Regions from separate parts of the Homo sapiens genome. Here region 2 is linked to region 1. The links come from fine-mapping of genetic effects on gene expression. Tissue or cell type: fibroblasts. Region 1 holds a variant in brackets; the other region holds the start of a gene. All regions are shown on one strand. Distances are between the middles of the regions.

Region 1 (2,688 bases):
CTGTCATTGATAATCAAAGATTTCATATCCTAAAGAAGGATCAATTCACTCCAACAGCCATAAGATAATTTACAAAAGTAAAAAAAAAAGGAAGTAATTTCACTTGAGACAAGATGTAGTATTAAATTAAATTCTTGTATTCTCTCTTAAATCTTATTTCTTGTGGTTTTAAAAATAGCATTTGTTTAATTTATATTAACACTGTTACGTAGTAAAACATTTTCTCATTTTACTGATTTAATTTAATTCTTATTTCTTACTTCTACTCCTCTTCCTCCTGAAAGGCAAGCAATACAATGCCTGTTACATTATTTTGTTTGCAAGTGTTCTTTAAAGCTGTGTATTATTGTTTTGTGGGTATATATTTTTATTTTATGTAAATTTTAACTTTATACACATGTGCATAATTTTCTCACTCAGTACTGTATTTACTAGATCTGTCATGCACTTATATTTATCTAGTTTGAAGCTGGTAACTTCTACGTGGCATCTCCATACAGTGCATCCACCACATTTTAACTATTCATTCTCCCAATAATGGACACTGGGCTTGACTCCAACTCTCTATTCACCATGAATAAAGCTGTAGTGAACTTCCTAGTATACGTACTCTAAAGACTTATGCTGAGAATGTCTTTGGTATACATTCCCAAGAGCAAAATTACCAGGTCATATATTTTGTGTATATAAAATGGTACTAAATTAGTATGCAGCATGGCTGCCATAGTTTATCTTCCCAAAGCAGTGAGGCTCTAAAGCCCCACATCTCCACCCATGCTAGCAATACTTAGTTTACTCATATTTTTCATTGATTCTAGAAAAAGTTGCTGACTGTGTACTGTGTGCCCTGGTTCTGTTCTAGGCACTAGGAACATAGCAATGAACAAAATAGACAAACATCCCTGCTCTCATAGAACTCACATTCTCCATTGACCTTATATTCTAATTGAATGTTTACCATCTAATATATGTAAAACAATACCTTCTTGTTATTCAAATTTGCATTTATTTGATAACTAATCAGTTTGGACAAAGATTTGAATTTTAGTAAGCCACAAAAGCTAAAGTAAAAGACAGAGAATCAAATGACTTTCATAAGTATGTGTCATAAGTAAGTCTGTTTATCTCACTGATGACTTCTTTTTTTTTTTTTTCTTTTGAGACGGAGTCTCTCACTGTCACCCAGGCTGGAGTGCAATGGCACCATCTCCGCTCACTGCAAGCTCCGCCTCCTGAGTTAACACCATTCTCCTGCTTCAGCCTCCTGAGC[A/G]GCTGGGACTACAGGTGCCTGCCACCACACCTGGCTAATTTTTTGTATTTTTAGTAGAGACAGGGTTTCACCGTGTTAGCCAGGATGGTCTTGATCTGACCTCGTGATCTGCCCGCCTCGGCCTCCCAAAGCACTGGGATTACAGGCATGAGCCACTGTGCCCAGCCTGATGACTTCTTTATCTTTCCAGTATTCACAAACTGATTTTATATATAACTAATTCATATATTAGTTCGTATTTTGTGAATTTTGTTTTATGTTCTTTCATTTCCTCATTCATTTTTCTTTTTCATCTCCCCCCTCCAATGTTATACCATTTTGTATACATACTAGACATCCCATAAATACTTTTTGAAATGTTTATATACATATGTTGGAATGATTTCAGTGCTCTTTACAAGTATGATAATTTAAATCAAGAACAAAATAAGAATTTGCAACAAAAGAATAAAGATCGAGAGGAGCCAAGATGGCCGAATAGGAACAGCTCCGGTCTACAGCTCCCAGCATGGGCAACGCAGAAGACGGGTGATTTCTGCATTTCCATCTGAGGTACCGGGTTCATCTCACTAGGGAGTGCCAGACAGTGGGCGCAGGTCAGTGGGTGCGCGCTCCATGCGCGAGCCCAAGCAGGGCGAGACATTGCCTCACTTGGGAAGCACAAGGGGCCAGGGAGTTCTCTTTCCTAGTCAAAGGGGTGACAGACGGCACCTGGAAAATCAGGTCACTCCCACCCAAATACTGCGCTTTTCCTACGGGCTTAAAAAACGGCGCACCAGGAGATTATATCCCGCACATGGCTCGGAGGGTCCTACGCCCACAGAATCTCGCTGACTGCTAGCTCAGCAGTCTGAGATCAAACTGCAAGGCGGCAGCCAGGCTGGGGGAGGGGCGCCCGCCATTGCCCAGCCTTGCTTAGGTAAACAAAGCAGCCTGGAAGCTCAAACTGGGTGGAGCCCACCACAGCTCAAGGAGGCCTGCCTGCCTCTATAGGCTCCACCTCTGGGGGCAGGGCACAGACAAACAAAAAGACAGCAGTAACCTCTGCAGACTTAAATGTCCCTGTCTGACAGCATTGAAGAGAGCAGTGGCTCTCCCAGCACGCAGCTGGAGATCTGAAAACGGGCAGACTGCCTCCTCAAGTGGGTCCCTGACCCCTGACCCACGAGCAGCCTAACTGGGAGGCACCCCTCAGCAGGGGCACACTGACACCTCACATGGCCAGGTACTCCAACAGACCTGCAGCTGAGGGTCCTGTCTGTCTGTCCTAACAAACAGAAAGGACATCCACACCAGAAACCCATCTGTACATCACCATCATCAAAGACCAAAAGTAGATAAAACCACAAAGATGGGGAAAAAACAGAGCAGAAAAACTGGAAACTCTAAAACGCAGAGTGCCTCTCCTCCTCCAAAGG
Region 2 (2,688 bases), 500 kb after region 1:
AGAGTTCCCAAAGCTTTAGGAAATAGCCATAGGAAATAAATATGAAAGGCAATAATTACACGTTAAGTGATACTGCCTGGAGAGTATGTTCATTTAGTAAGTATAAATTGACAAGGCTGACAAGCTCAATCTCCCACCAGCTCATCTCCTTGAGAAACTAGAAATTAGAATCTGTTCCTATTATCCTTTAAAACGCTGCACCTGCTTTTAACACATTTACATGTGTGTTATGCCATCACATCTGCCTGACAATGCTAGACTTCCCACATGTTTTTGAAGAAAATTAAAATAAGCATCTGCTAATAACAATTTTATTTCATCCTAAACAGTTTCATTTGGGGCTGATGAGAAAAAGCCACATAATGGAAAAAAGAAAACTACCTTTATAACTCTGTGGCAAACACATTTTAGAAGGTAGGTCTATAAATAGATGTGCTTCTGTAGGCACAGAGTAAATATAAAATCGTCAGGCTAGCGGGGCTGCAGTTTAAACTGAAGCCCCAATATGAACTTACCTGATTTTTAAAGTCCTATTAGAATAGGCTTACAATCAGTACACAGCTCCTTTTTCTAGTTGCATAGTAAAGGCAAAACACCCCCAACTACATTTTACTTATCTCAGTCTCATCTTTCATCAGAAGCAATAGTTTGCAATTTCATTCAGAAGCTGCTGTCCCTAAGCAGACTGAATATGCACAGAAACAGTAATGGAAGGGATCTAAGTTAAACCCTACAGACGCACCAAGAAAATAGCAACATCAACACGAAAAAGCAGCAATTTCCTTAAGAGAGGTGCTTTTCTTAGCTGCATTTCCCAAGCCAGCCCCCTTTCAAACCTAAAACGTCTCAGTTATGAAAGAGGATCTTACCTGAGCTGATCATACTGTGCATTCTTTGCTGAGCCAAGAGCTGCTCTCGTCCAGCCACCCCATCTGAGGAAAAACAGGAGTCACTCTCGTAAATTGTCTGCAGCATATTCCAGTCACTCTTACTTCAGCTACATGAAACATTCATCACTGCTCAGTGCACCGGCCCCAGGAGCTACCCTCGCTGGTTCTCCCTCCTCCCTGAGGAGAAGCAGCAGAGGATCAACTTCGACAATGATTTCCTTTCTGCTCAAATGGGCATCCACTTTTAAAAAGACCTGGACACTTTTCCCATGTTACCAACCTGTGTGCAAAGCAGAAAGGACAGAGTGGATGCTATAGCTCTCTGGAGTTTAGGTTATCCCGGAAACTACAAGCAGGTGGGAAATAGGAACGTGCTTCGGGGTTATTTCTTTGTCAGAATACGTAGAAAATTATTAAGTCTACCCACGAGAAAAAGAAACCAATTAAACCTGGCTTAGAGTTCTTCAGGCTGCTAGGGTTTTGTTGCAAAAACCCTCAGTCCTGCAAGTGGCTCCAGCCGGTGCCCTTCTCCTATCTGTGTCTGTGCCTCTCTTCCCCCTTTCTCAGTCTCTCTCAGCTCAAGTTGGCTAAAGCGAGTGATAATCCATTTGCATATGAATCAACAACAGCATGGCCCACAGGCACAGAAATAGAACAATGGTCGGCCTGAGCCAAAAATAGGTCAAGCATGGCCGAGTGATTGGAGCCTGCATTAATGCATTTAAAAATACCCCAGCAAACCCAGCTGTCCAGCCTCTATCTTTCCAACCATAATTCTCTATCGCAGGGCCTTAAAACCAATTAACTCTTTCCTCTCTCGAAGCTTGCTTTACACACTGTGTTTCCATACTGGCGATTCGCTTCCAAAGAAAGGAAGGCAAGAAAAAAAATTAAGAATCATAATTCTAAGAGGGCAAATGCACATACATTTCATTTCATTTTATTTTTGTAGTATGTGTTTTTGGAAGAGAGAGGAGAGAAGTACAGAGCTCTGTATTGGTTCTAAAATAATACTGGAAGCTTTTGCTCATAATGTGGTTTCTGCCTCACCCACGCACAGCAATCCTGGTGTTCTATTTTTGTTGCCTGTTTCTCAGGCTACACTGCAGTTGGCTGTAGCACTAGAAGCTTTTCTGCCTTCTAGTTTCAGGACTAACAGGAGATTTAGCAGAGGTACTTTTGGAAAACAAGCACACCCCAGAATAAAATTTTTATGAAGGACAGGCTTGATTTTTTACTTGCTATTTATGCAAGACAATTGTCCATTTCACAAATCCTATTGTATCTTAGTACCACCTATGAATTTTATCGCATCCATCCAGTTAGTACTATATCTATAAACAAAACAAAACACAAAACACAAAACCGTGGCTTATATGTGAAAATTTCCCCTCAGCCTCTCAGGCTAAATTCAATTTACTTGCAAAAGGAAAAGAAAGTAGTCTGATTTCTTATGGATACAGAATTTCTGAGCATATGCACCTGTTGATGGATAAATCATATATATGGTTAGTACCCAACTATGACTGTTCTGCATTCAGCTATACATTGGTTGCCCGAAATATGGACCTCCTAACTTTTCTGTAGAAATAGCATTTATGATAGTCAATAGATTACCAGACACATTGTGGCGTTCAGCTATACAGTACAGTAGATAGTATCAGAGTTTTATAGTCTCTGGTGCTACATTTATATCCTTTCTATATAAGAGATAAATTTTACATTCCAAAGAGGGATCCTAGCATCTTGTCACTTCCAAGAGCAAACCCAAAAGTGATAATCTACTAGTCATGGAAGC

The links. PIP is the estimated chance that this variant, and not a neighbour inherited with it, causes the effect.
Region 2: HDAC9 starts here. The variant in region 1 is fine-mapped to the expression of HDAC9 in fibroblasts (GTEx, PIP above 0.99).

The regions. Positions count from the first base shown.
Region 1 is chr7:18,990,108-18,992,795 of GRCh38, reverse strand. All of the region lies in intron 25 of HDAC9 (histone deacetylase 9), which reads right to left. Among named protein-coding and RNA genes, the nearest start is that of HDAC9-AS1, 89 kb to the right of the region's middle. RefSeq lists an enhancer at 2,313-2,688. The variant A/G (reference allele first, on the strand shown) is at 1,271.
Region 2 is chr7:18,494,506-18,497,193 of GRCh38, reverse strand. HDAC9 (histone deacetylase 9) reads right to left here and starts at 1,445. Exons shown (of 26, transcript NM_178425.4): 1 at 1,171-1,445; 2 at 870-932. The coding sequence starts at 891. RefSeq lists an enhancer at 1,667-1,716.